3 separate regions of the Homo sapiens genome follow, and regions 1 and 2 are each reported to be linked to region 3. Evidence: microRNA targets listed by miRTarBase, many of them from high-throughput screens and not tested one by one. Region 3 holds a microRNA gene; each other region holds the end of a gene's coding sequence.

Region 1 (3,252 bases), not on the chromosome of region 3:
AATTCAAGCAGTGGCTTTAACTGACCTTTTTTTTTTTTTATCTGAATTAAGATCATTTGGGCCACACCTATGAGCTGAGGTCTAGTTCAGATTTGTTGGAGAATGCTCACCCATCAGTAATTTTTTGACTGATTCAAGCCCCTTGACCAATGGACATTAGAGGATGAATGAGAAAGTGGAATACATTAAGTAACTTAGAATGAAGAAAAATCATAGCATAAGAGATACATTTTTGACACTTTGTAACATGTAAATTATAATTAATACATAAATTTGCACCAATTACTTGACTCAAGAGCTCAAAACTTTCTGTAATGGGTTTGAAGCACAAAAATACAGTGTTTATAGTCAGAGTGCAGCCTTTACTTTCAATAATGGTTATGGAAAGCAAGTTTGGCTTTAGGTTGTAAAGAGTTTTTCAGTGCCAAGGCATTTGACTGCCCTTTCTTTCTTATTCTCCATTGTCTTGCAGACCAGATGATGTGCTTCTGCATCGCACTCATGATGAGATTGTCCTCCTGCATTGCTTCCTCTGGCCCCTGGTGACATTTGTGGTGGGCGTTCTCATTGTGGTCCTGACCATCTGTGCCAAGAGCTTGGCGGTCAAGGCGGAAGCCATGAAGAAGCGCAAGTTCTCTTAAAGGGGAAGGAGGCTTGTAGAAAGCAAAGTACAGAAGCTGTACTCATCGGCACGCGTCCACCTGCGGAACCTGTGTTTCCTGGCGCAGGAGATGGACAGGGCCACGACAGGGCTCTGAGAGGCTCATCCCTCAGTGGCAACAGAAACAGGCACAACTGGAAGACTTGGAACCTCAAAGCTTGTATTCCATCTGCTGTAGCAATGGCTAAAGGGTCAAGATCTTAGCTGTATGGAGTAACTATTTCAGAAAACCCTATAAGAAGTTCATTTTCTTTCAAAAGTAACAGTATATTATTTGTACAGTGTAGTATACAAACCATTATGATTTATGCTACTTAAAAATATTAAAATAGAGTGGTCTGTGTTATTTTCTATTTCCTTTTTTATGCTTAGAACACCAGGGTTTAAAAAAAAAAAAAAGGTGAGGACATCTGGGTCTCATTTGCTTCTGCTAGGTTAAACTTTTACTTGACAACAAGGATTCCTGCTGAAGTCTGAACCTTACTGTGTAACCCTCAGTTTCCACTATTAAAGAGTATCTTTTGACGTCTGCTTGGAAAATGAATAGTATACTGGTAACTCAGTCTCCAGTCACCTCTGTGTCTCTTAAGCAAGAGATTCTAAAAGATTGGGAAAACATATCCTCCAACACCTGCCTTTGCCTAACCATTATTTTTCACCAGATTACTTCTTAAGAGAGGGAGGTGATTCTGAAGAAGGCTTCTATCTCAAAAAGCACTGGGCTTCCTTATTCATCTGTTCTTGTTGTTTTTGACGGAGTTAAAAAAGTTTGTGTGCAATACAATATACATGATGTGAAGGACACTCTTCAGCTTAGTGAAACGCTGTTTTCATTTTTTTTTTTTTTTGTAGGTCAGAAAAAAACAACAAAATCAGTTCAAGCATTTTTTTTTCTTTGTCCTTGCCTTGATGTTATGAGTATTAAAACCAGGAGGATTGCTGCCATTGTGCAGTTTGCTTAGACAAACCTGGAGATGCAACCCAGCTCACATCATTGCTACTGATGAGCTTTCTGTGCCTTTATCAAAAGTTGATTGAGAAGACCATATTTCTTTGTATCTTTTTATAAACTCAAATTCCAAGTATCAAATCGCAGGTCTCAGTGAACATCAAACCTATTTACTACATAGAATCAAACCTTTGTTTAGGTGAGATGTACATCGTTAGTGGAGGAAAAACTGACAACCTAATTTCATTTGTTTTCTTCTGATACTCTTCAGACATGCCTCTATTAGAATAAAGGTAAACTGGAATTTAAAGACAAGTTCCCCTCAGTTATTTCCATGGAGCTGTAATATGTATATATGGAGTGATGGTTTCCTGACCTTTAGTCCACATACCAATGTTTTCTTTTTTCTTTTTTTTTTTTTTTTTTGAGATGGTGTCTCACTCTGTTGCCAGGCTGGAGTGCAGTGGCACGATCTCGGCTCACTACAGTCTCCACCTCCTGGGTTCAAGTCATTCCTCTGCCTCAGCCTCCCGAGTAGCTGGGACTACAGGCACGCACCACCACGCCTGGCTAATTTTTTTGTATTTTTAGTAGAGACGGGGTTTCACCGTGTTAGCCAGGATGGTCTCAATCTCCTGACCTTGTGATCTGCCCACTTCACCTCCCAAAGTGCTGGGATTACAGGCCAATGTTTTCTTAATCTTAGAATGTGAATAACTGAAAATCATAGTCTGTGGAAAGGTGTTGAATTGAGTATAATCTTCTTCTGTTTATTTTTGTGTTTTGTTTTTTAACAGATGGGTATCTTGCTATGTTGCCCAGGATGGAGTGCAGTAGCTATTCACAGGTATGATCATAGCACACTGCAGCCTCAAGCTCCTGGGCTCAAGCGATCCCCCTCCCTCAGCCTCCCAAGTATCTGGGGTTACTGGTGTGCACCACCGTGCTTGGCTCCAATAATTTTTTTTCTAATTCAAAAGTTACAGTTTCACTGTGAAAAAGGCCTTGAACACACTATTTATGACATCTTTTGAGGCAGCTCCAGTGCCTTGACTTCAATCCCAGTTTCCGGTTGCAGCATCCTTGTTGTCTTAGCAACACAGTGAACTATTCTGAAGCATAGAGTAACACGAAACTGGGAGTCCGAGAAATAATCATCTCTGCATCACATTATGGGAGACGAAGTCTGCTTTATCCATTTTATCTTTATTCAGTTGTCTATGATTAATTGATTACAGAGTAGTAGATTAGAATAGTGCATGGATATACATTTGTGTTGAAAAAAGGGGAAGTTGATATATATCAATCTTAGTTTTCATTTATCAGTTTGATATTCATGCATTTACACTAAACGCTTCCATTTATCCCGAAAAAGTATATGCAACTGTATTCTGTAGGTTGATTTTTGGAAAAGGGGAGAAGCACACTGAATTCATAAGGTCACATGTAGTCTTAAGGTCTTACTTGCTTACAGCCAATTAAATTTGAAGCACCTTATTTATACTTGTTAAAGGTAAAACCCAAAAGAACAAGCAGAGGACATTTTAAGGTCATAAAAGGTAAATAAGCTTACCTTCTTAATGTTTTCATTCTCTTTTTGTATAAATCAGAAAATGATCTAAACTGCTGTAACAAAGAGACC
Region 2 (3,252 bases), not on the chromosome of region 3:
GGAGGAGCTGCTGAGCGACATGAAGGCCGACGTGACCCGGCTGCCATCCATGCTGTCCCGCATCCCCCCGGTGGCCGCCCGGCTGCAGATGTCGGAGCGCAGCATCCTGAGCCGCCTGACCAACCGCGCCGGGGACCCCACCATCCAGCAGGTCAGGCTCGGCCTGTGTGCCCCGGCCCGAGCCCCCTGGCGTGCCCCTGGGTGGAGGCTGGGTGGGGGGCCTGAGACCACCTGTGAAGCTGAGTCCTTGCCTCCAGGGCGCTTTCGGCTCCTCCCAGATGTACAGCAACAACTTTGGGCCCAACTTCCGGGGCCCTGGACCGGGAGGGATTGTCAACTACAACCAGATGCCCCTGGGGCCCTATGTGACCGGTAGGTGCCCGTCCGCTCCGGGCAGCATGCACACGGGTGCCCGCCGGGCCCGGCCTGCCTGCTGCTGCCAACGTCAGGCAAGCCCGGCTCTCCTCTTTTTTTGACAGATATCTAGCCGTCCTCGAGACTTCCCTGTGTTGCAGCGCTCATTTCCAGCTGAGGTGAGGGCTGCTGGGTGCTGTGTTCCTCCCCGCCACCCCATTGCTGGCAAACCAGGCCTGGCCACAGTCAGCCCTGCCCCTGCACTTGACTCCCGTCCCTAAGTCCTGGAGCTTTTACTGCCTCCGGCGGCTTTGAGAGCCACCCACCTGCCTGGAGCCCCTCTACCTTGCCCCCTTGGCCCTGGGACCACCTTGTGGCCAGCGTGTCTGTCCACTGGGAGGCTGGGGTGGCAGGACATGAAGGGGTCGGTGGACTTGGGTGAGCTCCTGTGTGTGCACATGTGTTCTCATTTGCACACATGTTCCCAGCGGAAGTCAGAGACTGCTGCCCCCGCCTGGAGCCCTGTCCTGCCCCTGCTGTCCTGCTGGTGGCAGACATCACATCTTGTCTTACACCCTCACTTCCTGCCCAGGACCAGGAGGGTGGCTGAGGGTTTTGTGGGGGCTATTGGCCAGGAGAGGGGGCTTATTTCAGAGAAACTGCCAGTTCATTCTGGTCTTCTCTGGGGCCACCAGCCTCCACTACGCTGTGTCTGTCCCTGTGGGAACCGTGTCTTGCTGGAGGAGGCTCCAGAGGGGCTTCCTGGCTGGCTGCCCCTGCCCACTGCTGCTTCCTGGGTGCTCTCGGCACTCTGGGTGTAGCTCATGGCCTGGCCCGGCAGCCTGTGGCTGGGAGGTCATGGCTGGGGGGCACCCCGATCATAGTTGGTTGTGATAGGTGGAGAAGCAGCTACAGGCTGTTGGGTGCCACCCTGATGCCCCCTATAACTGCCCACCTGCTTAACCCACTGATTTGCGTTTTGCAGCCACGCCTGCCGGGCCACCTGCCCGACCCACATGGGAGAGAAAAGCTGCCACCTTTTTAGGAGCCAGCGCCACCTTGGGACAAAAAGGGAAACCTAGTAATGCCATCACATGGAGGACGAGGCCCAGCTCAGCTGGGCCAGAGCCCAGAAGTGCCACCTCATCATAATTCAAGTGTTCTTCCACACAGCGTTGCCCCCACAACCACGCCGGACGTGCCCCCTCGCCACCTTTTCCAGACGACTTCTTAGAAGAGATTTCATTTATTTGTACATCTTTTGCACTTTCCTATTGAAGACTTGAACACGTTTGTCTTGATAAAAGTTGGATGACGTATGGAAGATTCGAACCTGCAGCACTGATGTCTCTTTACCGATGGGTTCCAGACCCAAGGTAGTCCTGGCACTGCCCTGTGGACTCAGCCCAGCTGGGGAGGACATGGCGCCCGGTGCCCTAGGAGCCCTCAGTGTCCCCTACCTGACCTGTCTGCACCTGTGTGACAGCCCCTTCTGATTTGGCCCCCTGCCCGCTTGGAGCCTCCCAGCACCAGACAGGGCAGGTTTGGGGAGCCGCTGTCCAGCCCTATGGTGAGACCCTGGCTGACATTTCCCCTCCTTCCTGCCAAGGCTGGAGGCCGCCAGGTGTTTGCTCTCTCCTTGTGGGGAGGTGGATCCTCTGCCAGCAGGTGTCTGTCCCCGGCCCAGCGCATCTTGAAGGCCCTGGACTCTGTTACCAGTGGGGGGCCTGTGGCCCCGGCTCTTCACAGCAGGCAGAAGCGTATGATCCCAGGGAGGGTGGGCTGGGGGGGGGGCAGCACTTGCCTCGGAGCCACTGCTGCGTTGGGTTTGCCTTCTGCCAGAGGTGTGGTTAAGGGCAGTGATAGCTGCGCCCCAGCAAGGAGGGTCATGGGCCCTGAGCTGGCCCAGGAGACCCTGGCCCTGCCCTGTGCCCTGGGATGCCTACCCTGCCCACCTCCGGAGGTGGAACCGGGCTGCCCCTGGGGGCCTGGACTTGTCCCATTCCCCTGTCCCTGGAAAGGCCTTCCCGGGGGCTTTTTGCCTGAGGCTGCACTCTTGGAAGGCGTGGGGAGAGTTCTGCCTGGAGGGGGACTGGACCCAGTGCCCTCTGCAGACCCCTCCCAGCCGCAGCACCAAGGGCTTGCTGCCTTGTTTCCTGCCAGGAGCGCCCTGACATCCCAAAACCATCTTCCCACATGTGGGTTGTTGGAATCCCACCCACTCCCCCGGACCCTGCCCCTCCAAGTTGGGGACGGAGATGGGGAGCAGGTCAGGCCCTCCCTAGGCCTGTTTGTGTGTGATCCTTCTCCTGGCCCCAGGTCGACCTGGAAGGCGTTTCTGAGTCTTGTACTGGGACCTTCCCAGGGAAGGTGCCTTGGGGTGCAGAATCCTGGGAATGTTAGGAAAGGGCTGCGTGAAAAACCCAGCTGGGCCTGGGGTGGAGGTGCACACGGGCTGGGGCTCAGCTCCTTGGAGAGGGCCTGCCTGGGACTGAGGGGGCCAGGGCTGGGTCAGGATTCACCAGCTTGTGTTGCAGACACTGGAGCGATTGCCTGGCCCTCCCTAAGCCCTATATGCCTCACTCATAATGAGGCTGTCTCTGAACCCCGGAGGGCGGGACCTACAAGTCCTTCCTCTTGGCGCATTCCCACACTCCAGTCTGGATCCAGGTCTGCAAGGCCAGCCCGACCCTGACACTGCACGTGGGCGTAGTGGGGAGCACCCTGGAGTGGAGATGATTGTCAGCGGGCTCACATGTTATGGTTCATCCACATGCGTGTTGTGTGCTCTGCGGTGCCTCCTGGCAAAGGGTCCTGGCTCGGGTCAGAAGCTCACTCCCGTGCCCTCGTCCCCAAACAAGCAGTGGCAAGCACTGGGGTTGGCCCTCGTTGGGAGCA
Region 3 (3,252 bases):
TCCCAAAGCTGATTTGTGAACAACAGTAAGAATGTATTGTGCCAACTCTGATACATGGTTTACTTTTTCCCAAACTAAGATGGAGGCTTTCTTAAGTGTCTAGAAAACTGAAATACTTGACCCTAGCAAGTATAATAAAGAGTATAATAACTTGGGGGAATCCAGAGTAATTGACTATCCAGCAATTGTACTATGCCTTTTCCTCCACTCTGAGAGTTTGAACAAAAGAATTCAATGACCTGATCTTTTTAACAAAATTAAAAATTTAAATGTCCTCATTTTTGAAAAACCTAAACTCAGTGCTCATAGGTTATTTGGCATAGAGCAAGAATTTGGTTAAAGAGGAATATGAAGTGGAACTTGGTTTTTAAGTCATACATAGCAGATGTTTAGGTGTGTGTTTTCCACACTTAAATGAGGCCACAGAATCTTAGAAAGACTTTAACTCACCCCCTACCCCCCTCCAGCAGGATCATTGCTCCCTTTGCTGGAGAGTTTGCTTTTTTCTTTTTAATGTTTGTCTTCCTTAATGTCAGCATGCCTGTTTTTCCAGCCACCCAAGCACTTTGTTTTATAAACATTCAGCTGTCAATATAAAAGACTATAAAAGAACACCTGCTCTCGTGGCTTTAAAGTGCTAAATGCTCCTCTCCCTTTTAGTCGTCAGATGTTTAAATGAATTTGTCTGCTCTCTGGATGTCATCTTTTTTCCTACAGGAAAAAAGTTTTGTGCCTCCAAGTTTTGTGATTAGTTTAGGCCTAGTTGAACTTAGGCCTACATCCAATCGATTGAATCCCATTGGGTAGCCTCTGAATGGTTAGTCTGTTATTTTTTATAGTATGAGTGAAGTCTTTTTATTATAATAATATTTATTGAAGGAATTCTGCATTCAGAAGGGTCTGTTGAACATTGAAGCATAAGTGGACAAAGCTGGGACTTGAGCCAGATCATTGTCCAGGTTCAGGGAGGCTCTGAAAATTAGCTAAGAGCTGGAGGTACCCTTCTGATGGTAAGCGGAAACAAATGAGTGACCAAAAAGAGTAAAGATGCATCATTGAGATTCATGTGGCTGTAGGTAACCACAGCAACAAGAAAAAAAAAATCTCAAACCTGCTTAATCAAGAAAGAGACTCCTAGCTCTGGAAGTAGAGCCAAAAGATGTACTTCAGGATTGATGAGTCCAGTGGCTCTGGTCCATTTCCCTGCCATTCCCTTGGCTTCAATTTACTCCCAGGGCTGGCAGTGACATGGGTCAAGGCTCACACCTTCACCTGGCAGCACCAGAGGGAAGGACCTTTTAAGAAGCCCTCAGCAACTTCTTGTGTTTCATTGGCCTAGAGTGAATCATACACTTATTGTTAAACCAGTCACTGCAAAGAACAGATTTACCTACACATCAGATAAACCTACTTTCAGAATTAAGATTAGGTCCTCTTCTCTAAGACCAGAGTTTCTCAAACTCAATATTATTGACATCATAGGCCAGATAATTCTTTGTTGTTGGGGGCTATTCTGTATCTTATAGGATGTTTAATAGCATCCTTCACTTCCGTGCACTAGATTCTAGGAGTTGCCCCTCCTTGGGACAACTAAAAATGCCTCCAGGCTTGGTGCAGTTGCTCATGCCTGTAATCCCAGCATTTGGGGAGGCCGAGGTTGGAGGATTGTTTGGGCCTAGGAGTTCGAGACCAGCCTAGGCAACATAGTAAGACTTCGTCTTCATAAAAACAAAAAATAAACAAAATTAGGTGGGCGTGGTGGTGTGCACCTGTGCTCCAGCTACTTCGGAGGCTGCTATGGGAGGATCGCTTGAGCCCAGGATGTTGGGGCTGCAGTGAGCTGAGATCGCACCACTGCACTCCAACTTAGGTGACAGAGCAAGACCGTGTCTCAAAAAAAAAAAAAGCCTCCAGACATTGCCAAATGTCTTTTTGGGGGCAAAACTCTTTCCCCACATCCCCCTGTTTGAGAACCATGGACCTAAACACATGAAGACACCTAAATAACACACCAGCTTAGGTAAGAAGTAGGGAATAGGAATATTCACCACACAAAAGTCTTGAAATAGGAAGAAAATAAGGAACCTTTGTAAGGTAGAGAGGCCACAGGGAATGATGGCATCACCCCCAATGTCATGACCACTGGTGAGTCAAGACCTAGATGCTTAAACCAAGAGCAGAAGACAAGCACTGCCCAAGGGAAGAACCAGTGACTTTTTTAGGCATCTCAAACAGAGCATAGAGAAATCAACCAGGAGCAAGAGACAGAGGCAAGTAAGGACCATATCTGGAAGCTAGTGACAGACATTCAGGGAAGAAACAAGGATACAGAAATGTCTTTCTCTCCCAAGGCCAGGATCAGCATGACCATGGGGCACAGGAAGTTCGATGGAGCTCAGAGTTACAGGAAATGCCTTGGGTGCTTATATCCAGAGAAAATGCTAGAAGCAGCTTCTTAAAGGGGAAGAGGATCCCACTAGACTTAATACGGTCTCTGCCCACATCATTGTGGAGCTAGATATCTGTGGAACTTAGCCTAAGGCTTTCACCTTAGACGTGACTGAAGTGGAAGAAATGGAATCAGGTCCCTACAGGTTGCCAAATTGGTGGCAGCTCTGTTGGAGTTAGGAAGGATGCACTCAGAAAATCTGTGCGCTACTCTGCATTTGTTTTTCTTTGATATGCCTGAAGTGATTTAATTAAGCTGTATGTGAAAATCTCCATGTTAGCTCCAACTATAATAAAAAGCAAAAAAATGTATTTCATACTTCATGGGATGAAGAAGAAGATTAGACCCTGGAGCCTGGGTGAGATGGAAATACTGTTGGCAAAGAGCTGCTCCAGGGGACTTGAAGGGACTTTTTTACTGTACTATGAATGACTGGACCCTGTATTGTCTAATTATCCTTAATACCAAAGACAGGGCATCTGTGAGAATCTGAGAGGTACTAAGAAAGGCTCTGTGCTCTAAAACCATTTCCTCCACTGGCTTTATCAGAGAGAAACCCCACATTTCACATCATTGTTAAAGAGCCTCTACAGAAATTCAGTTACCAGCTGAGAAAAATAATGAAGCCTCCCCAACAGGCCTCTGGGACCCCTTGAGTTGCCACCAGGAACTGGGGTACAACAGAAGAGGAGGTTACTTTCTCAAATGCAAGAGCTTGGCAGGCCTAATCGGTTGTAGATTTAAGAACCAAATGGCCAACCCAATCCTTCCCTGGATACAGCCATTACTGAACCAGCCTCTTA

Evidence for each region. Region 3 holds the annotated microRNA hsa-miR-4446-5p (AUUUCCCUGCCAUUCCCUUGGC, at 1,198-1,219, shown strand). A microRNA usually pairs through its seed, bases 2 to 8, with sites in the 3' UTR of a target mRNA and lowers its output. Matches are read on the target gene's strand: a 7mer-m8 pairs with bases 2 to 8, a 7mer-A1 pairs with bases 2 to 7 and ends in A, and an 8mer does both.
Region 1: the mRNA of KCNMB4 is a reported target of hsa-miR-4446-5p. Seed matches in the 3' UTR shown: 7mer-A1 at 1,271-1,277.
Region 2: miRTarBase lists CHD5 as a target of hsa-miR-4446-5p. Seed matches in the 3' UTR shown: 7mer-m8 at 1,425-1,431.

What each region holds. Positions count from the first base shown.
Region 1 is chr12:70,430,013-70,433,264 of GRCh38, forward strand. It overlaps KCNMB4 (potassium calcium-activated channel subfamily M regulatory beta subunit 4), which reads left to right. Exons shown (of 3, transcript NM_014505.6): 3 at 473-3,252. The coding sequence ends at 641. Among named protein-coding and RNA genes, the nearest start is that of PTPRB-AS1, 36 kb to the right of the region's middle.
Region 2 is chr1:6,103,515-6,106,766 of GRCh38, reverse strand. It overlaps CHD5 (chromodomain helicase DNA binding protein 5), which reads left to right. Exons shown (of 42, transcript NM_015557.3): 39 at 1-151; 40 at 258-372; 41 at 480-533; 42 at 1,340-3,252. The coding sequence ends at 487. Among named protein-coding and RNA genes, the nearest start is that of KCNAB2, 59 kb to the right of the region's middle.
Region 3 is chr3:113,593,686-113,596,937 of GRCh38, forward strand. MIR4446 (microRNA 4446) reads left to right here and starts at 1,191; the gene lies at 1,191-1,257. The region is part of intron 10 of SIDT1 (SID1 transmembrane family member 1); the gene reads left to right.